7 linked regions of the Homo sapiens genome follow. The protein of the gene in region 1 interacts with the protein of each later gene in a pairwise test. Each region holds a gene or a part of one and is shown in the gene's direction. Other genes may lie near its edges. The genes, in order: HSPD1, IDH3G, PRUNE2, EGFL8, LASP1, ATAD3A and NOTCH2NLA.

What was found.
Region 2: the proteins of HSPD1 (region 1) and IDH3G interact in binary tests that used the Homo sapiens proteins (3 or more experiments, as listed by UniProt).
Region 3: the proteins of HSPD1 (region 1) and PRUNE2 interact in binary tests that used the Homo sapiens proteins (3 or more experiments, as listed by UniProt).
Region 4: the proteins of HSPD1 (region 1) and EGFL8 interact in binary tests that used the Homo sapiens proteins (3 or more experiments, as listed by UniProt).
Region 5: the proteins of HSPD1 (region 1) and LASP1 interact in binary tests that used the Homo sapiens proteins (3 or more experiments, as listed by UniProt).
Region 6: the proteins of HSPD1 (region 1) and ATAD3A interact in binary tests that used the Homo sapiens proteins (3 or more experiments, as listed by UniProt).
Region 7: the proteins of HSPD1 (region 1) and NOTCH2NLA interact in binary tests that used the Homo sapiens proteins (3 or more experiments, as listed by UniProt).

What each region holds. Positions count from the first base shown.
Region 1 is NC_000002.12:197,489,841-197,493,340, reverse strand, and holds part of HSPD1 (60 kDa heat shock protein, mitochondrial), read left to right. Parts: coding exon 1-17; intron 18-3,044; coding exon 3,045-3,144; intron 3,145-3,500. UniProt on the Homo sapiens protein: Chaperonin implicated in mitochondrial protein import and macromolecular assembly. Together with Hsp10, facilitates the correct folding of imported proteins.
Region 2 is NC_000023.11:153,788,322-153,791,375, reverse strand, and holds part of IDH3G (isocitrate dehydrogenase [NAD] subunit gamma, mitochondrial isoform a precursor), read left to right. Parts: intron 1-524; coding exon 525-566; intron 567-800; coding exon 801-812; intron 813-1,083; coding exon 1,084-1,181; intron 1,182-1,551; coding exon 1,552-1,664; intron 1,665-3,054. UniProt on the Homo sapiens protein: Regulatory subunit which plays a role in the allosteric regulation of the enzyme catalyzing the decarboxylation of isocitrate (ICT) into alpha-ketoglutarate.
Region 3 is NC_000009.12:76,700,115-76,703,614, reverse strand, and holds part of PRUNE2 (protein prune homolog 2), read left to right. Parts: coding exon 1-278; intron 279-3,500. UniProt on the Homo sapiens protein: May play an important role in regulating differentiation, survival and aggressiveness of the tumor cells.
Region 4 is NC_000006.12:32,163,174-32,167,394, forward strand, and holds the start of EGFL8 (epidermal growth factor-like protein 8 precursor), read left to right. Parts: upstream 1-1,421; 5' UTR 1,422-1,484; exon of another isoform or gene 1,485-1,508; intron 1,509-2,964; 5' UTR 2,965-2,992; coding exon 2,993-3,093; exon of another isoform or gene 3,094-3,324; coding exon 3,325-3,447; intron 3,448-3,527; coding exon 3,528-3,637; intron 3,638-3,736; coding exon 3,737-3,832; intron 3,833-3,913; coding exon 3,914-4,084; intron 4,085-4,176; coding exon 4,177-4,221.
Region 5 is NC_000017.11:38,908,058-38,911,557, forward strand, and holds part of LASP1 (LIM and SH3 domain protein 1), read left to right. Parts: intron 1-3,500. UniProt on the Homo sapiens protein: Plays an important role in the regulation of dynamic actin-based, cytoskeletal activities.
Region 6 is NC_000001.11:1,522,162-1,525,661, forward strand, and holds part of ATAD3A (ATPase family AAA domain-containing protein 3A), read left to right. Parts: intron 1-582; coding exon 583-738; intron 739-1,349; coding exon 1,350-1,406; intron 1,407-1,677; coding exon 1,678-1,803; intron 1,804-2,111; coding exon 2,112-2,236; intron 2,237-3,078; coding exon 3,079-3,130; intron 3,131-3,500. UniProt on the Homo sapiens protein: Essential for mitochondrial network organization, mitochondrial metabolism and cell growth at organism and cellular level. May play an important role in mitochondrial protein synthesis. May also participate in mitochondrial DNA replication.
Region 7 is NC_000001.11:146,163,022-146,166,521, reverse strand, and holds part of NOTCH2NLA (notch homolog 2 N-terminal-like protein A), read left to right. Parts: intron 1-1,511; coding exon 1,512-1,771; intron 1,772-3,500.

The sequences.
Region 1 (3,500 bases):
ACACTCGTCTTGAATAGGTAATAAGCAGTGGTATTTGTTGATTTATATTTCTCGGTGAAAGACAGAATTATTTGTATTGCTGTTTGCAGTTTCCATCATGTGTACCTCCACATTTGATCCAGTTGGGTTTGTATCTAGAATTGTAATTGTGTAAATCAGGTGTGCTCTAATGTATCCTTATGGTTGTGTTTTTGAAGGAACCCCAAAGTCTTTACTATTTTGATCAGCTTTCTCATAGAATAGACTAATTTAGCACATGGGTACCTTTCTGTATTTTGCAAGTGTTTACAGTTGTTTTGAAGGCACATGACTGAATCTTGTATTTTTTTTTTTTGAGACAGAGTCTCACTCCCTGGCCCAGGCTGGAGTGCAGTGGCATAATCTTGGCTCACTGCAATCTCCATCTCCTAGGTTCAAACAGTTCTGCCTCAGCCTCCCAAGCAGCTGGGACTACAGGTGCGTGCCACCACACCTGACTAATTTTTGTATTTTTAGTAGAGACAGGGTTTCACCATATTGGCCAGGCTGGTCTCAAACTCCTGACCTCGTGATCCGCCCGCCTCAGCCTCCCAAAGTGCTGGGATTACAGGTGTGAGCCACTGCGCCCGGCCTTGTAATTTTTTTATTTTTTATTTTTATTTTTGGAGACAGAGTCTCTGTCACCCAGGCTGGAGTGCAGTAGTGCAGTGGCTCAATCTCAGCTCAAGCCTCCGGGGTTCAAGTGTCAATCTTGTTTTTTGTTTTGTTTTGTTTTGTTTTTTTAAGGTTTTTCTGGTTAAAAATATGTAAATTTTCAGAATATTATTTTGCATAGAACAGGGAAGTAAACAACTAACTTCCAAATAACTCAGAGCCAGGCATGGTGGCTCACAGCTATAATCCCAGCACTTGGGGAGGCACAGGCGGGTGGATCACCTGAGATCAGGAGTTCCAGACCAGCCTGGCCAACATAGTGAAACCCCGTCTCTACTAAAAATATAAAAATTAGCAGAGCATGGTGGCGTGTGCCTGTAATCCCAGCTACTCAGAGGCTGAGGCAGGAGAATCACTTGAATCTGGGAGGCGGAAGTTGCAGTGATCCGAGATTGTGCTGCTGCACCCCAGCCTGGGCAACAAAGCGAGACTCTGTCTCTAAATAAATAACTCAGATGTAAGTGTATTTCACCATCGAATATTTTTATTTATTTTGAGAGACAGACTCTGTCACCCAGGCTGGCCTGCGGCGGCACGATCATAGCTCACTGCAGCCTTGAACTCTTGGGGTCAAGCAATCCTCCTGCCTCAGCCTCCCAAGTAGCTGGGACTACACACTTGCACAAGCACACTTGGCTGATCTTTTAATTTTTTTGTAGAGACGAGGTCTCAATATGTTGCCTCAATATGTTGCCTAGGCTAGTCTTAAACTGTTGGTGAATCTTAAGTGATTCTCCCACCTCAGCCTCCCAAAGTGCTGGGATTACAGGCATGAGCCACTACCCTTGGCTGTGATCAAGTATTTAGTCTGTTGTTAAATGTTTACTAAATAGTCTGAAGTAGAGAAAATAGCACCCAATCTAAAATAAGGTGAGGTCTAGTCACTTATTTAAATCTACATTTTAAGCTATAGTTTACTATTAGTTTAAACTTTAAGACAGGTAATGTTCATGCTGCAGACAATCTAAGGGCATTATTAAAATGTTTGTTCTTCCTTATCTCAGAATTGAAGTATGTCAGAAGCAAGACTTTTCTTTCCATTTTGTTATAGTAGAAATGCATACATTAACAGGTACGTTTTAGACATTACACGTGCTCATCTGACCCAAAAGCTCTAATGAGCTGCCTTACCCTGGAATGTTTTTCTTAGCTTGGATTTGCTTTTTTGGAGGGATTAAGAAAAGACTTGGCTGGGCGTGGTGACTCATGCCTGTAATCCCAGCAGTTTGGGAAGCCGAGGCGGGTGGATCATGAGGTCAGGAGATGGAGACCATCCTGGCTAATACGGTGAAACCCCGTCTCTACTAAAAATACAAAAAATTAGCTGGGCGTGGTGGCGGGCTGAGGCAGGAGAATGGCGTAAACCCAGGAGGCGGAGGTTGCAGTGAGCCGAGATCTCGCCACTGCACTCCAGCCTGGGCGACAGAGCAAGACTCTGTCTCAAAAAAAAAAAAAAACACACAAAAAAAAGACTTGAGGCCAGAAAAAAACAAGCCTACAGAGTTTTCATTAAGCCATTTTACTGCTAGTTGAAAAGTGGGATATCCAGTTTACATAGCATATAGCTTATTCCTCTGATTTTTATTTGGGTCCTTAATAAAATAGACCAGCTGTCTTGAAGTTTGAACGTTGCTTCTGTTTCACAATCTGCTCTCAAATGGACATTTGATTACACATTCCAAGTATTCATTTACCTGGTAAAAATTTCAGGTGAGCTTAACAATACTGTCAGCTTTTTGTATAACATTTATAAAAGAAGTGAATTCAGAACATTGCTCATTCAAAACTCAGCATTAATATATGGAGATGTTTATTAAATGACCCTCAAATGTAATATTTAGTAATTACTGTTTTTCTACCATTCATAATAGTTATCACTGTATCCTATAACTTACTGTGATGTGATTTTTGCTGCTCGGCCTCCTGAGTAGTGGGGATTACAGGTGCCTGCTACCACATTTGGCTGATTTTTGTTATTTTCAGTAGAGACAGGGTTTCACCATCTTGGCCAGGCTGGTCTCGAACTCCTGACCTCGTGATCCACCTGCCTGGGCCTTGCAAAGTGCCGGGATTACAGGCCTGAGTCACCACGCCCGGCCAGGCCAACAGTTTATTAAGAAGGTAAACGGATATGGACAAGTATAATTAATAGAAAATAGCCTAAACTGTCTCAGATACTTCCTGTCTTAATTTGATCAAAAATTGCTAGGAAGCAAAAAAAAAACAAAAAAACACAAAAACCAAACCAGATTACTTAGGGAGTCCTAAGTAATCTAGTAACAGCTTGAGGGGAATTAAACAGATAGGCATTTTTATTTCATTTAAATCTTACTATCAACTATTCTTAACAGGCTAAAGGTTGGTCTTCAGGTTGTGGCAGTCAAGGCTCCAGGGTTTGGTGACAATAGAAAGAACCAGCTTAAAGATATGGCTATTGCTACTGGTGGTGCAGTAAGTAAAATAAATGTGATAATGGTTTGCTGAATGTTTATACTTGTCTGGAATTTATAGATAGTTTAACATTTCACAATTAGATACTACAACTATCTGTTTCTTTTGGCTCTTTGGAAGGTAGGGGTTGGATTAAATTCCCGTTAATTTGCCACAAGTCTGGCCTAAGAATGAGCTTACTGACTATTCTATATTGACTAAATCTTATTGACTGAATAAGGGGGTTTCCTTTTTTTTGTTTTTTTTGGAGACAGTGTCTTGATCTGTCTTGACTATTCTTGACTTGATCTATATTGACTATTCTTATTGACTTAAATCTGTGGGGTTTCTTTTTTTTTTTGAGACAGGGTGTCTTG
Region 2 (3,054 bases), on another chromosome or scaffold:
TGCTTGTCTCAGGGAGGCCGGAGGCTGGGTGCTACCTTCTTATCTCCCTATTCTGCTTTTTCTGTAGCGACCACATGCTGCTTTTGTAATAAGAAAAAGTGATCGGCGAAGTGATAACGTGACTGTTGTCATGGATCTGTGGTTTGTTGTAATGATTTCCCTGCTGTACCAGGGTTAGTTTGCCAGTTTTTGCATGTTACAAACATCGCTGAGCGGGAATAACTGGCCAAAAAAATAATCAGAAGCAAAAAAGAGGAGGGAGGGCAGGGACACGCCTTTTAAGAAATTTTCTGAAGAGCGGAAGGAGGCAGGAGGCTGGAGCGCCTTCTACTTTCCAGGTGCTCCAGCGGGCCGGCCCTGGGGACTGAGGCTTTGGAGCTAATTATCTATTGTGCCCCTGGCAGTGGGCCATGCTGCACAGACAGGGGACCTGCCTGGGCACAGTGGGGACGGTCCGTTTTTCCTTCCAACTTGGCTTTCTGGGTTAGACATCAAACCAACCGCTGGCATTTGGTCTCTGCCAGGTTCTAGGCGCCCACGAGGTCCCCTCGAGGAACATCTTTTCAGTAAGTACCTGCCCGTGCCCACGCATGTGTCTTTCTCCATGTGGCCGCAATTGTGCGCGTGTGTGCACGGCCTGTGTCCTGTCCTCTGAGACGTGGTCTCCAGGGGCTACCCACCCCTCTTCTGGGAGTTGTACTAGCCAGCATCCCCCTGGGAAAAGGTCCCACTTTCCTGGTCACGGCCTTGCTCTTGGAACCTTGGCTGATTGTGTCTTCTTCCTTTCTCATCCTTTCTAGGAACAAACAATTGTGAGTATTCTTCTCTGCCTGTTAGGTTTGGGGGGCTCTTAGTTGCTTTGGGGTTAACTAAATTCCAGGTGGGGGTGGGCTGCTGCTGACCCAGGAGCCCTGGATGAGCAGCCCTGTCTGGGACGGGGCTGCCCCAAGTTGGCACCTTGTGACGGGGCAGCCTGTGGGGTCAGCGCCAGTGGGAAGAAGGGAATTGGCTTGAGCCCATGGGGGCCGAGCTGGGGGCATGTGGGATCCCCGAAGGCCCACCTTCACCCTCTGCCTCCCACAGCCTCCGTCCGCTAAGTATGGCGGGCGGCACACGGTGACCATGATCCCAGGGGATGGCATCGGGCCAGAGCTCATGCTGCATGTCAAGTCCGTCTTCAGGTATGGAGCTCCTGGGTCCCCGCCTTGTCCTCAGCCAGGGGGCCCTGAGGACTTTGTGCCAAGAGGGGCATTGCGCCCAGAAGCACTCGGTGAGGCCATGGCAAGACGACCTGTAAGCCCAGGCCTTGCGTCCCATGGCCTGTGATCCCGCCAGACTGGCCTGGGCTCGGGGAAGGTGGCACCAGTCCTGCCACAGTGTGCATTGTGGAGTTCAAGCGTGTCCCCATCAGTCAGTGAAGGTGGGCCCAGTCCCTTCTCAGTCAGAGCCAGGTCAGGGCAGGTAGCAACAGGAGAGAGGTAGCCTGGGCAGGCTTCCTGGAGGAGGTGCGGGGGGGTCTGGGCCAGCCTCCCTGACCCTGCCGTGCCTCAGGCACGCATGTGTACCAGTGGACTTTGAAGAGGTGCACGTGAGTTCCAATGCTGATGAAGAGGACATTCGCAATGCCATCATGGCCATCCGCCGGAACCGCGTGGCCCTGAAGGGTGAGCTCCAGGGCCAGGGGCCAGGATGGGGCCCTAGGTGTGATTTCTTTCTTGCTTTCTTCCTTCGTTTCTTGCTTACTTGCTCGCTTGCTTGCTTTCTTGCTTGCTTTCCTGCTTTCTTGCTTGCTTGCTTTTTTGCTTTCTTGCTTTCTTTCTTGCGTTCTTTCTGAGATGGGGTCTCGCTCTGTCGCCCAGGCTAGAGTGCAGCGGTGTGATCTCGGCTCAGTGCAACCTCTGCCTTCCAGTTTCAAGCGATTCTCCTGCCTCAGCCTCCCGAGTAGCTGAGATTACAGGCGCCCGCCACCACGCCCAGCTGATTTTTGTATTTTCAGTAGAGAGTGGGTTTCACCATGTTGGCCAGGCTGGTCTTGAACTCCTGACCTCGTGATCTGCCCGCCTCAGCCTCTCAAAGTGTTGGGATTACAGGCGTGAGCCGTCGTGCCCAGCCCCTGTGATTTCTTTTACCTCCCTCTGAGCTGACTCTTGTGGGGCCCCACGGCTCTGATTTCAGGGCTTGTCTGGCTAGAGAGGACCCTCGTGCTTGGAGACTGGGTGGACGCCTCCTCGGGCCTGTTTGCGCTGCGATGCTGGGATTCGAGTGAGAGCAGCTGTGTGTGAGCCTGTCCAGTGACGGGCTCCCTGATGGGTTCCCTCCCACCCCTCCTTCCCTCCTGAGACAGTCCTCTCTGCTGGGGTCAGCTTTGACCCTCAGCATCTTTCTTCACAAACCAGGTATCACAGAGATGCAGTTCCGACCCTCTGCCTGGCTCCTCGGCTGCAGCCAGCCTGGAGGTGGATGGCACAGCCCAGGCAGGGATTCTTGGGGCTTCACTTGAGGTCCTTAAACTACTTCCATTGCTCATTTTGCACACTCAGCCCATTACTTGCACTGTGTGAGGAGCGTGTGAGCAAAGATGAACCCAGGGGGAGCCCCAGGCCCTGGCAGTCAAGTAGAGGGGCCTTTGTGCCAGCCACAGGGGACCCCCGCGCTGTGAGTGGAGCAGTCTGGGTGGGGTACCGCTCACCAGCAGGCGGCCTCTGCTTGGCGCCCTCTGACTGCTGTCTCCAGCGGCCACTGGCCTCTGCTTCCCTTCCTCCAGGTGTCCTGGGTCGTAGGGTAGGGTCCGGCCAATCCGTGGCCTTCTCCAGGCAGCCCCCGCCTGCCTCTGAGTGTGGTGCCTTGATGCGGGGGCTTGGCAGTAACACCGCCAAGGCCACCTTGCTAGCTCCAGCCTGGCCGGCCAACCTGTTAGTAAAGAGTGGTCACTTTCTGTTGCTCCAGAGCCTGGATGGAGAATGGCATGGCTGCCTGGCTGGTTGCCAGCCTTTATTCATTTATTGACTTGTTCATTCCGTCGTTCAGGGGTTATTCATGGAGCACCTGCTGCAC
Region 3 (3,500 bases), on another chromosome or scaffold:
GGCTTGGGTGAGGGTCCCCAGCTGCAGATTCTGGAAGAAATGAAGCCTCTAGAATCTTTGGCACTAGAGGAAGCCTCTGGTCCAGTCAGCCAATCACAGAAGAGTAAGAGCCGAGGCAGGGCTGGCCCGGATGCAGTTACGTTGCAGGCTGTCACCCATGACAATGAATGGGAAATGCTTTCACCACAGCCTGTTCAGAAAAACATGATCCCTGACACGGAAATGGAGGAGGAGACAGAGTTCCTTGAGCTCGGAACCAGGATATCAAGACCAAATGGGTAAGCAAAAAGCTAGATTTATTTTTTTTCCTGAAAAGCAATTTATTTAGAAACCTGGGAAATGGTTAGAGGTTATGGAATATGAGGAATACCTGGATGATAGCAGCTTTGCTTATATTGAATGCAAGGCACACCATCAGTAAAAGCAGCTACTAGATAACTATAACCATAATGATAATTTATGTACATTTTCAGCCAAAAAGCCCCTTCAATTTTCATTCAGTCTTATACCTACCCCCCAACTGCCACCCCACCTACTTGAATACCTACATGACTCTTCAACAGGCAGTTGGGAATACAAGGAAGTGACACTAACATTTAATCAGCACCTACTATGTGCAAGGCAGTTTGCATACATTATCTCATTTAATCCTAACATGCCAGTGGGGGGAATGGAAGGAGTAGGGTTGAGTAGGGGGATTCAAGGCTCAGAAATTTTCTATAATTTGCCTAGAATTAAGTAACCAGAGTGAACACCTGGGATTCGAAGCTTGCCACCTCCAAAGCCTGTACTTTCTCAGTTGACACACCGCTTAGCATACAGAGGCATTTTCATATTTTCAAATACAAGGCATTTTCTGGTTTTATGTAAGCACCTAACTTATAGTTAGATAAGAGACAGGCTCCACAGCAGTCTCCAAATCTCAGTGTAACACATTCATTCCCTAATTGGCAGAGAAATTGGCAAACTGTCATTAAATCAGTGATTCATTCATTCATTCATTCACCATGTGGTTTTTGAGAGCTTGCTCTGTGCCGTGGTTCTGGGTAGCCAATGGGCATATATCAGGGAATAGGATGTCATCACTGCCCTCAAGCTTCCAGTCTCTGCTGAAACTGTTTAGCATTCTTCATTTCTCTTCATTTGTGTTTATGAAGCCCACCTGCTTCCAGGGACAAAAGAACAAATTGTGAAAAGTAACTTAAGTAACGGGGAAAGTCATGTTTTCTCCTTAAAATGTAATAGAGAAAAGATATCGGCCAGGTGCGGTGGTTCATACCTGTAATCCCAACACCTTGGGAGCCCAAGGTGAGTGGATCACTTGAGGTCAGGAGTTTGAAACCACCCTGGCTAACATGGTGAAACCCCGTCTCTACTAAAAATTCAAAACTTAGCTGGGGTGGTGGCAGCACCTGTAATCCCAGCTACTTGGGAGGCTGAGACAGGAGAATTGCTTGAACCTGGGAGGTGGAGGTTGCAGTGAGCCGAGATCGTGTGACTGCACTCCAGCCTGAGTGACAGAGCCAGACTCCGTCTCAAAAAAAAAAAAAAGCGAGAAAAGATATATTTTTGCTACTCAGCTTGGGAGTGTAAAGGACTATACACATCACATACCCACAGTGAGTCAAGGAATCTGGATTCCAGCCTGCCTCTACCATGACTGATTATACATTTTAGGATTAATCCCAGGCTTAGGTTTTCTCATGCGTAAAATTAGTGAGTTGGGCTGAAAGATCTCAAGGCTTCCTGCAGTATTAAATTCTGGGAACTTAATTTGTGTGGAAACAGAATGTGTCCAGGGGAGCTTTGGCATTCACAAATTACATTTCTTGATGAAAGGAACAAGGACAATGGAAAGAATAGCTGGGGTATGTTGAGGATTAGCCAAGTGCAGAAGGGGTTAAAAGCTCTACCATATTCCAGGGCAGCTTCATAAATCCAGACATTGTCAGCTGGCCTAATCCTTCTTTCTTCCTGTCAAGCTATTTTCTTCCAGAGAGACCCCAGATCCGTTATCAGAAAGAGAGTAGCAGATGGATCCCAGCAGCCCTGCTGGCATTGTTATAGATTGAGCTCAGAACTCAGGCAGCCATGAGTTGGCTGAGCTATTGTTTGGCTTCTTGTGTGCATTTTGCACATGCCCCGAGATCCAACAGATGACAGTCAGTGTTCAATTGTGCCACCAGCACCTTTTCTTTCAACAAGATTTCTTTGCTCATCCCTTTCTGCTCAGCTTTTGTAGTACTGAAACTTTTCTCACAATGGGGATGGGGCAGATTTTCCCTCCGGCATGTGTATTATCTTTTGCATAAATAATTTACTGTGAATGTGTAAGTCTCCCTCTGTGCTAGATTTTGGGAGAATAAAGAGTTGTCTAAAACTGTGGTTCTCTAAGTGGGGTCCTAAGAACAGCAGCATCAGTATCACCTGAGTACTTGTTAGAAATGCAAATTATCGGCTCCGACTCAGACCTCCGGAATCAGGAACTCTGGGGGTGAGGCCCAGCCAGCTGAGCTTCAGCAACTCCTGATGCCCTCCAAAGCTTGAGAACCACTGGTTTAAAACATACTGTCAGCCGTCTAGGAGTTTACAGTTTAACTAAAGAGTTAGACATAAGTAAAAAGGTAGATAGCAGTGTAATATTTAAGTCAAGCTAGTCAATGCCCAATGTCAGTTTAAGTATAAAATGGGTACTAACTACAGGCTATTTGCTGTTGGACCAGGTGTTAAGCACTCTGCGCTATTTCACTTTACATAGGGCAACCCTGCGAGACAAGAATTATACAAGTGAGGAAATAAGAGGAGAGATATCTGTTTCGGGCGCCTTTATGGAGCAGGCAGCAGGAATGGCTTATTCTCTGTCAGACACAGGAGACAGAGTGCCCAGGGCCCATGATACTTTAAGGAGCCCATGAGAATATTTTCTTTTATAGTCAGAAGAAAAAATTATTATACTTTCAAGTGGATTTGTCTTTATACCAACAAAGTTATAAAATAAATTTTTAAAAAATGTTTTAATGACAGAAGGGGCTTATGAAGGCACTCCTCAAGGGGCTTATGAAAGTCACTAAAGGAAAGGTCATAATTTGGAAAGGCAAAGAAGAGGGTAAGAAGCTAGCTGAGTGAACTGGGATGAATACTATGAAGGAAGCCATGGGGACAGGAAGGTAATCACAGAAGCAAAACAATGAGATAGCTGTGGTTTCCCAAACAAAAACCTGGAAACATCTTCTGACACATAATCTGATCATAGAACAGAAGATCCAAAATCAAGACCATTCTGCAAAAAAGAAAATTAAGAAAGCCTCTTCTTAAATAGAAATAGGTTCATAGTATGTGCAATATGACTCACCAGCTGCAAATCAGCTTCTTCCCTCCCCTCCTTCAGCCTCAGCCTCTCTTAGCTGCCAAACTGTTTTGAGAGCTGCAAGCCACATTTTGAAAATCTGAGAAAGCATGAGAAAAATGCCTTTTCTCCTCATATGCCACCTACTGACTCT
Region 4 (4,221 bases), on another chromosome or scaffold:
TCATTTGGGGGATTGCTCCGTGCTGTCCCTTTCTCTCAAGGCCGAAGTTGGGAAGTGAGAAACCATGTTTTTAACTTGTGGCTGCTTTTGCTGCTGCTGCTCCTCCGTATCTGGCTGTATGGGTGGAGAACCCACCCCCTGCCCACCACAGGGGTCTCCTTCCAGGCCACTCAGGACATTTTTAGCTTCTCTCCTCCCCATGTTCCCTTTTTTCTCTAAAGTCCCCTGACATCAGCCCTCCCAACTCCTAAGAGGGACTACCCATGAGAGTGGGGTTCTGAGGCTCCCCTATGGGGACAGTTCCGTTCTTGAAGTGTCAGTGTTGGGGAATATCTGTGGCCTATGAGGCCCATCTCAGGTTTGGGGATCCCCCAGTCCCTATGATCAGTGTTGGAGTACCCCCCTGGGAGAGCCTAGTTTCTTTGAGGCCCCAGGCCCTCTTTTAACTACCTTTGAATAGGTGTTATCCCTGTATTTATGGAAATAAAGTTCCATTTCCTCAGTGTGACTTGGCTCATTTCCAGGTGGAGGGGACCTGGCTCCCCAAGGAGGGTGGGGGTGGAGCCTGAGGCCTGGGTGCCCAGATGCCTGGTCTAGGGTGGGGACCCCCTTGGTGTTTCCGCTCTCTCTCAATGCCCATTCTTTGTGGGTTCCTGGTTCTCTGCGGGTTCTTTCCTGCTGAAGACAATTCTCTTCCTCTCCCAGTCCCCAAGACTGGGGGGTTAAGCTCAGGGCTCCAGTGGTTTGGGCCTCAGCCTCATGGGTGGAATGCGCCTGCCACCCCCAGGCTAGACGAGGGGGCAGAGGGTCAGGGTGGGCATTCGTTGTGCCGCTTTTGAGCTTTGTGGGCCAGAGCTGGGTGTAGGGCTGGACAATGAGCCTCCTCTTCCTTGAAAGAAGGAATTTTGGCTGAGACAATAGGGCCCTGTCTGTTCTGGCATGGGGGGTGGTGGCTGACTCAATTCTGTTCCCCCTAAGCCCTAACAAATGTCATGAAGAGAGGGGGGCAGTTTTCCCCTTGGTGCCCTGGGCTGCCCCCCTGCCCCTTTGTGACGACTTGCCCTTCTAGCTTTCCTCAGCTGATCTTGCTTTTTCTCCCATAACCTGAACTGCTTTGTTCCCTGCAGCTGGTTCTCTCCCTGCCCCCTAACTCTCCCCTAGTCTGTTTTGGGTTCAAGGGGGTACTGGTGGTGTTACAGAGCTCATAGCTTCTGATCTGGGGAGTCCAGAAATAGGGGCCTCAGAGGGTTGGAAAGATACTTCTAGGGAGCCCTTTGCTGGGGTGGGGATGAGGGTAGTGGGACTTGACCCTACTGAGCTGACCCTGCTGGAGCTAAGGAGGAGGCTTGTGGGAGGGGGCAGGAATGGGAGGACTCTCTGGCCCAGCCCCTCCTCTCCTTCTTAGCCTGCCAGGCCCACCCACCAGTCTGAGCTGCTTCTGCTGAGGCTGGTCTGCTTGAAGCCTCCCAGGAGAAAGAAGCCAGGTGGGAATGGAGAGAGAGAGGAAGGCAAGTGGGGAGAGAATTTCAAATGGGGAAAGAGTGGGGTTTACTCAGAGCCTTAGGGTGGGCATGAGTTGCGGGGTGTTTTGTTGGAGCAAGGGATGTGCATTTAGGGCGTTATGTGACGGTGTGGGTATATGAGGGGAGTAGCAGTGTGTGAAAGGTGTGGAGTTTCCAGGTGCTTGGTTTGTGTGTACGGTGTGAAGGTATATAGCTAGGGGTTTTTTTTGTTTGTTTGTTTTGTTTGTTTTTTTGAGACGGAGTCTTGCTCTGTCGCCCAGGCTAGAGTGCAGTGGCATGATCTTGGTTCACTGCAACCTCTGCCTCCAGGGTTCAAGGGATTCTCCTGCCTCAGCTTCCCGAGTAGCTGGGATTACAGGCGTCCACCACTGCGCCTGGCTAATTTTTTGTATTTTTTAGTAGAGATGGGGTTTCACCATCTTGGCCAGGCTGGTCTCGAACTCCTGACCTCATGATCCACCCACCTCAGCCTCCCAAAGTGCTGGGATTACAGGTGTGAGCCACCGCGCCCAACCAGCTAGGGTTTTGAAGGTATGAAGTTATAAGAGGGCATGTTAAAGACAGGAGGGTTGGCCAGGCATGGTGGCTCACACCTGTAATCCCAGCACTTTGGGAGGCCAAGGCAGGCGGATCACCTGAAGTCGGGAGTTCGAGACCAGCCTGACCAACATGGAGAAACCCCGTCTCTACTAAAAATACAAAACAAAATTAGCCGGGCGTGGTGGCAGGCGCCTGTAGTCCCAGCTACTCGGGAGGCTGAGGCAGGAGAATGGCATGAACCCGGGAGGCGGAGCTTGCAGCAAGCCGAGATCGCACCACTGCACTCCAGCCAGGGTGACAGCGAGACTCCGTCTCAAAAAACAACAACAAAAAAAAAACCAAAAAAAAAAAACCCTAGCTATATACCCTCACACCCTACAAAACAAAACAAAACAAAATTAGCCAGGCGTGGTGGCGCATGCCTGTAATCCCAGCTATTTGGGAGGCTGAGGCAGGAGAATCACTTGAACCTGGGGGGCGGAGGTCGTGCGGTGAGGCAAGAACATGCCATTGCATTCCAGCCTGGGTAGTAAGAGCGAAACTCCTTCTCAAAAACAAAAACAAAAAAAAACCCAAAAAAAGACAGGAGGGTCATAAGGGGAGGGTTGACTGTGTGTCCCTCCAGGTTGTGCAGAGGGGATTAGAAGTAAGTAGGTTAGAGGGGAGGTGGAGGGAGTGTGCTGGGGTGTGAGCTTTTATGATGCTGAAAGGATCATGATATGCTAAGGACAGGATAGTGTTGGGTTGTACACACAGGTGTAGGCAATCCTGGTGGCTAGTATGTAAAAGTGAATGTCCTGACTCCCTTAGAGGGTACCTGCAGAGTGCCCTTGGAGGGACTAGTGCTGGAGAAATTAATAGGAGAGGGGACGGGCATCCATTAACCTTTTCTTGCCTGCAGCCTGTAGGGTCCAGCGTCAAAGCGAATCATGGGGTCCAGGGCTGAGCTGTGCACTCTCTTAGGCGGATTCTCCTTCCTCCTGCTACTGATACCAGGCGAGGGGGCCAAGGGTGGATCCCTCAGAGAGAGGTGACAACAGAGGGGGTAGGGCCCGGGGTGAGCTCTTCTCAGGAGCCTTCTGCTGGGGGTGGGGCTTCACAGGAGGCAAAACATAACTGTAAGTTTAGAATGGGGGTGAGAGGCTGTCATCTGGAGGGAGAGCGGGGGGCCTCAGTAGCCTCTTGAGGGAAGTGGGACTCCTGGCTCCCCAGGGCCTGGCCTACTCAATCTCTCCCACCTCATCCTCTGGCATGGACGCAGTCAGGGAGTCTGCTCCAAGCAGACACTGGTGGTCCCGCTCCACTACAACGAGTCCTACAGCCAACCAGTGTACAAGCCCTACCTGACCTTGTGCGCTGGGAGGCGCATCTGCAGCACTTACAGGTGAGGGATGGGGAGATGGGACCCCAAGAACCCCAACTAGGACCCGTACTCAGGGTCCTGAGCCGGGCGCTGTGTTCCAGGACCATGTACCGCGTTATGTGGCGGGAGGTGAGGCGGGAGGTTCAGCAGACCCATGCAGTGTGCTGCCAGGGCTGGAAGAAGCGGCACCCGGGGGCGCTCACCTGTGAAGGTGAGGCTGGGTCTTCCGGGCCTTGCGGGAGGCGCGCCCCACGGAGCTGGGGAGCTGGGTCGTCGGTTTGAGTCTGAACCCCACTTCCTCTGTCCTCAGCCATCTGCGCCAAGCCTTGCCTGAACGGAGGCGTCTGCGTTAGGCCTGACCAGTGCGAGTGCGCCCCCGGCTGGGGAGGGAAGCACTGTCATGTGGGTGAGTCAGCTTGTCCTCCCCACCTACCCAGGTGCTTGCCCCCGCCCCCTCTCTCAGCCCCTTCCTTTTTTCGGTAACTAGACGTGGATGAATGTAGGACCAGCATCACCCTCTGCTCGCACCATTGTTTTAATACGGCAGGCAGCTTCACCTGCGGCTGCCCCCATGACCTAGTGCTAGGCGTGGACGGGCGCACCTGCATGGAGGGGTCCCCAGAGCCCCCAACCAGTGCCAGCATACTCAGCGTGGCCGGTGAGTGGGCAGGAGTACGGGCCACCCGAGGGACTCGGGACGGGCGTCCGGGCTCGGGTAGTGGTCACACTCTTGGTCTCCTTTGTCCCTAGTTCGGGAGGCGGAAAAAGATGAGCGCGCTCTGAAGCAGGAGATTC
Region 5 (3,500 bases), on another chromosome or scaffold:
TCTCCTCCCAGAGGAAAAGGCTCCCTGTCACCCCATCGCTAATGCAGATAGCGTCATGTCCAGGGAAGCTGTCACACATTCATCTGGGCCCCCAACATCAAGGACACCTGTCCCTGCAGGCCCCCTGCTGGCACCTTCGGGGCCCAGGGCAGGCCCCTGTCCATTCCGTGTCTGCACTTCCCTCCCTGGTCACAGGTTCTCAGGGGCAGGCTCTTTTCCTTAGCAGAAAGGAAACAAGGGAAGCTGACCTTTCCCACCTCAGAACAAAAGTTGGAAGGGCAGGTGCCTCGTGAGCCTGGAGGCCTCAGGAGGGGTGTCCCCTTCCCTTGTGCCCTCCCCGCCACCAACACCAGTGGACAGGGATCACTAAGAGAGTGGGGCTCGGGAGACTCACCTTCTGCGCTGGGTCTGTGAGAACATCACCTGGAGTGCCCCTCCCAGCGGATGCTGGGGTCGGTTGGATTTTCAGCCTGGCCAGGGTTGGCTGCCTCACCTCAGGAACAGGCTTAGCCTGTGCTGCCACGTGGGTGCCGGTCCTTGCTCTGGCCTGAAGGGAGGGGGCCGGGAAAGGAGGGACTGATCCTGACCCAAACCCCTAAGTAAACTGCCCTCTGCGTCCAGACTGGACTCCCCCCAGACTCTGTCCAGGCCCTTACCACTGCCCTCCCTGTGCCCCCAGCCCGGGCTGCAGGAACTATTGGCTGTTCAGCCAGCAGGAGCAGCAACCATGCAGGTGTTTCCAGCTGTTAACGTGTAAGCCCTGCCTGGCCACGTGCTTGCTCTTGCCTTTTGTGCACAGCCAGTGCCAAGGGGGAGAGGAGGCAGCAGAGACGTTGTGCGGAGGGGATGCCCAAAGGGGACTGCCCAGGCTGGGACAGCCCTGATGGGGCAGGGGCGTTCCAGGAAACAGCAGGTTTTGCCTCTCCTCCTCTTCCCACCCCACTACTCCCACCCCATTTTCCCGGATCAGGAAAAGGCAGGCCAGCATTCTAGGGAACAGGAAGTGAAGTTGGCTTCCAGCTAGGTGCCTGCCAGGGCCTGGAGGAAATTCCTGCAGGCCTGAGCCCGTCTGGGAAGGACCAGTTTCTCTCCTTGTCCTGGTGTCCTGCTTTCTGAGTTTCCCCTGAGGGTGGGGGAGAGCTGTCACTCTCTTCACTCTATGTCCCGCTTCCTCCCCCATCCTCATGGAGCACTCAAACCCTGAACCCTCACACCTTTCTATGGTTGTACCCGTCCCCACCAGTTTCCTCTCTGGAAAGTGAAGAGGAGGCTGGGCACGGTGGCTCACGGCTGTAATCCCAGCACTTTGGGAGGCCGAGGTGGGCAGATCACAAGGTCAAGAAGTTCAAGACCAGCCTGGCCAACATGGTAAAAGCCTGTCTCTACTAAAAATACAAAAATTAGCCGGGCGTGGTGGCAGTTGCCTATAATCCCAGCTACTCAGGAGGCTGAGGCAGGAGCATCACTTGAACCCGGGAGGCAGAGGGTGCAGTAAGCCGAGACTGTGTCACTGCACTCCAGCCTGGGCGACAGAGCGAGACTCCATCTCAAAAAAAAAAAAGAAAGAAAAGTGAAGAGGATAGAGCCCACTAGGGGTCATCAAGGTGTGGGACAGGCAGCATGTTCCTACAGGAAGAAAACTCTAACTCCTGGTTCTGGTTCTTTTTCATCTCATTCATTCATTCATTCATTCATTCATTCATTTGTTTTGAGATGGACTCACTCTGTCTCCCAGGCTGGAGTACAGTGGCTCGATCTCAGCTCACTGCAATCTCCGTCTCCTGGGTTCAAGTGATTCTCATGACTCGGCTTCCCAAGTAGCTGGGATTACAGGTGCCCACCACCATGCCTGATTAAGTTTTGTATTTTCAGTAGAGACAGGGTTTCACTGTGTTGGCCAGGCTAGTCTTGAACTCCTGACTTCAAGCAATCTGCCAACCTCGACCTCCCAAAGTGCTGGGATTAAAGGTGTGAGCCACCGCACCTGGCCATCTCATACTTTCACAATTCATTCTTTGGTGCAAGTTTTACAATATACATTCTATATTTGTCAAGTGATAACTTCCATGTAACTTATAAAATACACATAATTCAGGAAGATTGTGCTAAAATACATTTAACCAATAGGAGTATGCCGTCAGAATATTTTGGCAAACAAGGGTCACTAAGTTTTTTCTGTAAAGGGCCAGGTAGGAGGTATCTCAGGCTTTGTGGCCATATGGCCTCTGTGGCAGCAGCTCAGTTCTGCAGTTCTGCCATGAAAGCAGCCACAGATAAGAGGTAATTGAGTGGGTGTGGCTGTGTTCCAATAAAACTTTATTTCTGGAGGCTGAAATTTGAATTTCAGAGAAATTTCATGTGTCATGAAATATTATTCCTCTTTTGGTTCTTCTTCCCCCCCTCCACCGCCCCCTGCCAAGCATTAAAGAATGTGGAACCCGTTCTTAGCAGCCGGCTGTGGGCTGGATTTGGTCCATGGACCATAGATTCCCAGCTTCTGCTCTAGACCACCCGTTCTCAGACTTGAAGCCTGCTTCAGACTTACCTGGAGAGCTTTTTTCCAAAATGCATATTCCAGAACCCCAGCCCTGATTTTGTAGATTTTCTGGAAGGCCCCAGAACCCGCATTCTAACAAGGAGCCCAGTTGAGTCAGACACAGGTAGTCTGGAGTCCACTTTTTTTTAAACAGAGTCTCAGTCTGTTGCCCAGGATGCAGTGCAATGGCGTGATCTTGGCTCACTGCGACCTCCGCCTCCAAGGTTCAAGCAATTCTCGTGCCTCAGCCTTCCGAGTAGCTGGGATCACAGGTGCCTGCCATCATGCCCAGCTAATTTTTGTATTTTCAGTAGAGACGGCATTTCACCATGTTGGCCAGGCTGGTCTCAAACTCCTGACCTCAGGTGATCCACCAGCCTCAGCCTCCCAAAGTGCTGGGATTACAGGCGTGAGTCACCGCGCCCGGCCAGGAGACCACATGTTAAGAAGCAAAGCTCAAGGGTCTCCAGGATCCTGGTCTGTTCTCTTCAGCCAGTCCTGAGGCCTGGGGTGTGCAGTGCTGTGGGAGACCCCTGCATCAGAATAACTGGCTCCTTCACTACCTTCCAGGAGCTTCCATCCAGTGGGGGTGGGGGACACCACCCGCCAACAGCACAGCCCAGTCCCAGGTGCTATGGAAGCCCTGGGTTCAGCCTGGAGCCAGGGCCAGCGTCCCGAGGATGAGGTGCCGAGATGGACCTTGAAGGATGAGAGAAGCCTGGACTGCCCTTGAGTGGCGAGGGTGGGCTGCCTCCAGGTTGACCTTAATCCCTTCCCTCCCTACCACCATGTGTCCAGATGACCTTGGGCAGGTCCCTTAGCCTCTCTGGATATCGGGATATGACATTGACTACCTCAGAGACTTGTGGGGAGGATTCGGCGAGCTGATATGCATGAAGTGTATCAACTAGGGCTGCTGGCTGGTATCTCCTTCCCTTGTCTTCCCCCACCACCCCAGCCAGGG
Region 6 (3,500 bases), on another chromosome or scaffold:
CCCAAGTAGATGGGATTACAGGCATGTGCCACCATGGCCAGCTAATTTTTTGTATTTTTAGTAGAGACGGGGTTTCTCCATGTGGGTTAGGCTGGTCTTGAACTCTTGACCTCAGGTGATCCACCTGCCTCAGCCTCCCAAAGTGCTGGGATTACAGACCTGAGCTACTGTGCCCAGCCAGCCTAATTGATTTTTAAAACGAGTTAGAGATTTTGGGTTAGTCTTGTTTTCCAGGAATAAAGTACCATTTTTAGTGGCCAAGAATGTACCAGAGGGTGTGGCCCTGTGACATCCGGCTGGGTCTGTCCAGGGCCCCGCTCAGCGACCGAGGCTTTCTAGGATTTATGCTGCCAGTTGCAGAGAAAATGGCCCTGAGTGAGGGCGCTGTGACTGCCCCACCTGCCTCCTGTAACCGCGTGGCTGTGGGATTCGGGGCCGGGAATTCGCGTTCCTGTGGGGCCAGTGCACGGCCCTGTGCTTCTCCCTCGGGCGGAGAGAGGGTGGGGGCAGCCCCGTGCGTCTCCTGCTCTAAGAGGGAGGGACGGTGGGGGCCGGTGCGCCAGTGCGGTGTCTCTGCTGCAGGTGGCTGGGCTGACGCTGCTGGCTGTTGGGGTCTACTCAGCCAAGAATGCCACGCTTGTCGCCGGCCGCTTCATCGAGGCTCGGCTGGGGAAGCCGTCCCTAGTGAGGGAGACGTCCCGCATCACGGTGCTTGAGGCGCTGCGGCACCCCATCCAGGTAGCAGCGCAGGCCTGGCCCTCCCTGAGTGCAGTTCCTGGCTGAGTCCCTTCTGCCCCACGAGCACAGCCCACGCACACCCTCCCGTCCCTTCCCTTTCCCCGGATAACGGGCACCCGCACACTGCTTCACGGGTGGGTTTTCCTGTCTGGCGCTGTACCTTAGGGGTCTGCATCAGTGAGACCCTTCCCCTGTCTGCCTCGGTGTCCCCTGCTCAGGGCTCTTGATGGGGCCTGGGAGCACATCGGGGTCCTTGCAAGACCCGGGACTTGGGTGTGCGGCCGTCTATCAGGGAAGCTGCTACAGGCCACGGCGTCTGGTGGCCTCCCTGGGGAGCCGCGCCGCTCGCCGCCCCCGAGGTGCCTGCTCTCCACAGGTCACTGGGTAGGTGGTTAAGAAAATAAAAGCCAATAAGGAACCGGAAAATGCCCCTAATCCCAGCAATAGCCGCCTGGTCTCCGGGCGGGGCAGGGTTCCAGCTCCGGGCCGGTCCTGGCTGTGCTTTGGGGCAGCTCCGTTTCTGCGTGTTACCGAGCGTGTGTGTGCGCGTTGGTGGCTGTTCCGTGGCTGTGGCAGGTGACCCGATGGCGCTTCCCCTTCCCCTCCGGCAGGTCAGCCGGCGGCTCCTCAGTCGACCCCAGGACGCGCTGGAGGGTGTTGTGCTCAGTGTAAGTCGGTGTGCCTGGGACCGGGGAGGCGCAGGGAGGGGACCCTGGAGCTGGGCCGGGCTGTGGCCCTTGCTGGCGCTCGTGGTGGCACCCAGGAGCTTTTGGGTCCTGAGATGCGACTGCTTGGACCGTGCTGGGGATAGATAGGCTGCCCCTGAGGTGGGAGGCTTCCCGAGGAGCCGAGTCTGCACCCAGGCATTCCCGCAGCCCCTTCCCCTGAGGCTTCCATGGGTGCACAGTGTCTCCTCCAAACCCCCGTCTTCCCCGGCAGCCCAGCCTGGAAGCACGGGTGCGCGACATCGCCATAGCAACAAGGAACACCAAGAAGAACCGCAGCCTGTACAGGAACATCCTGATGTACGGGCCACCAGGCACCGGGAAGACGCTGTTTGCCAAGGTGAGAGCGCCTGGCTGAACAGGTGGGCCAGGGGCCGCTGGGGTCTCACCTGCCTGCAGGTGTCTGGGGGGCTCAGCTGCCTGGGGAATGGACCCCCCTTAGGCCTTTGCCCACCCTCGTGTAGGCTCAGGGTGCTGGTGTGGGCAGCAGCGCCTCCCATCTTCCAGGCGGGGGACGTCTCCTGTCTGGCAGGCTGTGGCTTCCAGGCAGGGACGCTGGGCAGAGCCTCCACACTCCGGGTGGAGTGTGCAGGCTTTGCAGAGGCGGAGGGAACATCTGCTCTGTCTCCCCTCACTCTTCCTGTCCAGAAACTCGCCCTGCACTCAGGCATGGACTACGCCATCATGACAGGCGGGGACGTGGCCCCCATGGGGCGGGAAGGCGTGACCGCCATGCACAAGCTCTTTGACTGGGCCAATACCAGCCGGCGCGGGTGAGACGTCCCCACAGCATGCACCAGGCCCTTGGCTGCGGCCCAGCAGGCTGCCTTCTGGGAAGGGGGTCCAGGTGTCTCTTGGGGACCCTGTCTTTCTGCAGCTCTGTCCTTGTGGCCACGCAGGAGGCCCAGTGGAGGGTCCCTCGGAGGGAAAGTCCCCTGAGTGTGGACCCTGGTGGACACGAGGCCCCCAGCGTGTGGAGGCTGCCAGTGGGATACTTGGCTCAGGGCAGAAGGGAGGTGGGTGGGTGCAGGGGGAGAGGAGTCTTCACAGCTGCAGGGGAGGCTCCTCCACAGCCGCCCTCCCCCCAACACGCCTGCAGGTGGGCGTGGGCACTGGTTGCCTTTTCTAGAACCATTTGAAAGTTAGCTGAAGACAGCATGGCACACTCCCTTCAATAGGTCCCACAGTGACCCCGCGCAGGGCACAGCCCGGGCACCCTTGTGGCCTCGGCTGTCCTCGTTGGAACCACGATGCTCATGGTTGGCACCCTCCCCTCTGGCCTTTGACCTTTCACTTTAGAAGACCTGTCCCTGTCGTGGACTCTAAGCGGCCACCAGTGCTGCACTGGGCCGGGTGGGGGTGAAGCCTGTGGGGCGGAGTTCGTCGCCCCCGTGTGTGGTTGGTTTCCCACGGCCTTCTGAGGCTGGGCCGTGGTCAGCTGCCCAGAGGCCAGGCTGATCGGCTTCTGTCGAGTCCAGGACTTAGGGCTGCTGATGGGGCAGAGCCTGACCCCGTGGGGATCTGCCTGCTTGGCCTGCTCCTGCCGCGGCCGGACGCTGCTGTGGGCTGCTCCTGGTGTCACTCTCGCCCTGCTTGGCCTCCCTCTCGTTCACAGCCTCCTGCTCTTTGTGGATGAAGCGGACGCCTTCCTTCGGAAGCGAGCCACCGTGAGTGTCACTAAGCCTCTGGCCACAATGGGGTGGTGGGGTGGGCACAGCCGTCTGCCTGGGCCAGGCTGCAGCCCTCTGTTCAGTTTCTTTTTCTCTGTAAGCTTTGTGTGAAAAACAGCTTTTTTTTTTTTTTTTTTTGAGAAGAAATCTCGCTCTATCACCCAGGCTGGAGTGCAATGGCCCCATCTCGGCTCACTGCAAGCTCCACCTCCCAGGTTCACGCCATTCTCCCGCCTCAGCCTCCCAAGTAGCTGGGACTACAGGCTCCCGCCACCACACCTGGCTAATTTTTTGTGTTTTTAGCAGAGACGGGGTTTCACCGTGTTAGCCAGGATGGTCTCGATCTCCTGACCTCGTGATCCTCCCG
Region 7 (3,500 bases), on another chromosome or scaffold:
CGCTCCTTGCTCTGCCATGCTTATCTTATGCAGCTCTGGGAGGGGTGAAGAGGCTGTGGCCAGTTACCTCACTACCACTATAGCTATTCACCACCCTGTTTTCTCCTTTAGCCATTTTAGCTACTACACAATTCTTCTGGGCATTTTCTGTCTTAGTTCCCTAGTATCTGGCCTTCCCTCTTTTCTCAGTAACTGTGACCCCTGCTAGCTAGCCTTGCCAACCAATGGTTAATGAAAGGTCTTGGATATGACTGTCAAAGACAAAAGCACTCATGACCCCAATGTTTCAGGTCACAATGATTAGGAAAATCAGGACAACAAGGCTTGGGCACAGAAAAGCTGGTTTTTGAGAGGGGGATTTAGAGTTTGGTTTAAATGTGTAATCTTTGAGGTAATGGTGGAACAGCCTACTAGATTCAGTTTTCTAGTCCCTGAAAACTAAAACGAGGAATAAGTTGAATCACATATTTGGGGCACCAGCCAAATATATAGCAGCATTTATAGTTAGAATCAAAGTGTTTGTGTTTCTTAATTTAAATGCTTCTCAGAGATTCCATTTAAACAACTTCATTATGAAAATGGAGACTTACCATGCCTTTTTGATATTGTTCAGAGAAAATTGTCATAAATAATACACACAGTTTGAAATGGTTGTACATCTTATGAATCAAGGGGTGGCATGTAAAAAGGTTCCTCAGTGCCTCAATGTGGAAAATATCATAGAATGTTATTCTTCAATTGATTCCTTCCTTGACTTTGGTGTTTATATGGTATCTTAGATATTTTATGTTATTTTAATTATATTTTGTGTCTTTTTATTTGGTTAAAAATGCCTACTTAAATATTAACAGATTTTTAAATATCCCTTTGAACTCTTCCCCATTCCTGTACCTCCTTTCCCTTTTTCCGTTGTAATGTCAGCCACCTGAACATAACCCAGAAAACTAGGTATCATCCAATTGATGTTTCAGTGGAAATAAGAGAAAGAAGCACTTACTATTTCTCAATGCTTAATTGAGGAAAAGCACATGATATCTTACATATTTTAAATTGGAGGGGATAATAGGGTCAAGTTCATGCATTATATTGTGGACATCTTAATCCTATCAAATGGCTTAGTCAAAATGAGAAAGTTAATGAATTTAAGCAGACAAGTACGAACAGTGCTCTAAAAAAGGTGCTGTTACACCATCCCAACCTGTACACACATGAAAAAAAGCTGGGGTGCATTTTGCGTTTGAATAAGGGTCATGTTGACTGGCCATGGCAGACCCTGCTAGACCATACACCTGATACTCTGTCACCTGCCAGGACTCAAAAGGACATGGGAGTATGTGGTTAAGTTCTCTAAGGACTCTTTCTTCTAAAGGGAAGCAGTTTTATAGGTGGTCCTTGTAGGTCTGTTGATTCACAATCTCGTGCTTTCTTGATTGGACTGTATTGTTTTACTGTAATTTTTTGGACTTACAAGAAGTCAGGTGTTTTCATGGACTCTTCTCTTTTCCATACAGATGTCCAGAAGGCTTCTTGGGGGAATATTGTCAACATCGAGACCCCTGTGAGAAGAACCGCTGCCAGAATGGTGGGACTTGTGTGGCCCAGGCCATGCTGGGGAAAGCCACGTGCCGATGTGCCTCAGGGTTTACAGGAGAGGACTGCCAGTACTCGACATCTCATCCATGCTTTGTGTCTCGACCTTGCCTGAATGGCGGCACATGCCATATGCTCAGCCGGGATACCTATGAGTGCACCTGTCAAGTCGGGTTTACAGGTAACTAATGAGACCAAAGCCAGTGCTTTCCTACCTTCAGCAGATACCTTTATTTAGCATCTTTTAGATCATGGTGTCTGGCTCTTAAATGTCCCCCAGCTCTGGTGCACATTTAACATTATGATAAGGAACTGGGATGTTCCAGACAACTATCCCTAACTTCCTTTTAAGAGTTTCAGGGGGCAGAGAAAGAGAAAGAAAAAGGACCAAATACTTTGACTGCTTAAAGTATATATGTCAGGGCCAGGTGCGGTGGCGCACGCTTGCAATCCCAGCATTTTGGCAGGCCAAGGCAGGAGGATCACTTGAGGCTAGAGGTTTGAGACCAGCCTGGGAAACATAGCAAGACCCCATCTCTACAAAAAAACAAGAATAAAAATAAAACAAAATTAGTCATGTGTGGTGGTGTGCACCTGTAGTCCTAACTACTTGGGAGGCTGAAGTGGAAGAATTGCTTGAGCCCAGGAGTTTGAGGCTGCAGTGAGCTATGATCGCACCACTGCACTCTAGCCTGGGTGACAGAGTGAGACCCTGTCTCAAAAAAAAAAATATGTACACCAGGATGGGGAATCAGAGTTTACTTCACTAAAAGAAATAAGTACACTGTCACCAGAGGAAAAGTTGCTGATGTTATTGACTATTTGCTTTTAGAAATCTCCCTCCCTAGACATTCAGGGCACTGGCTTTTCTGGTTTTCTGAACCCTGTTCCTTTTGCTTCTTCATTACCTTGTTCTTATCCATTAAATGTTTGTGCTCCCTGGAGCACTGTTTTGCGCCCTCTTTTGAGCCACATCACAGCTCTCCCTAGGGAATTTCACTGTCTGTATTCGCCTCCACTGCCACTGTCTTCATTAGCTTGCTGATGAATCTCACCATCATTCCCTTAGCTCCACCCAACCCTGACATTCAGGCTCATGTTTCTAGTTATCCTTTGTATGTTCTCCTTGGAGATATTCTACAGGTACTTTCAGCTCACCTTGTTGACAGAAATACGTAGCAACCATGTACATCCCAAATACCCACGCTAGAAACTCCCTGTCCCTTGTTCTGACCTCATTTCAACTCAGTCACCCAAGCCAACCTCTGAGTTGCCTTTCACCTGTCTATTCCTCCCATTTCCTCTGCTACCCTGTAGTTGAAGGCCATGTTATCTCTCACCTGGGCTTCTGAAGTAGTTTCTGAATACGTTTTCTTGCCTTTATTCTCTCCCCATCTCATTCACCCATGATATTACTACATCTTTGATTATAAATGCAAATATTCTAACAATCTCACCTGCTTACAATGTCTAATATTTTTTCATCATCCGCAGAATAAACTGCAAACTCTTTTACATGACTTCCATAGCTCTCTACAGCCTAGACTTTACATCTTTTTATAGCCTGGCCTCCCCACAAGCATCTAGGCCTAGTCACACCAAATTCTCCTTATTTCCTGAAAATGTTGTACTTATTATTGCTTCCATACAGTTACACACCCTTTTGCCTGGAATGCCCTTTTCTACAACTGGTGATTGTCCAATGTTATTTAAAACTGTGTCTCAGTGACCCTTTCATGATTCCTTTAGGCAAATGGTCTCTAAGTTTTATTAGTTTTATGTATCACATTTTATTGTAATTTTTTTTACACATATCTCACCTGAATAGATTGTGGGTTTTTCTAGGTGGGTCTGAGCTTTATTCAAAAGTGTTTATTAAATTAGATGAGAAAAGGAGGAACATTCTTCAT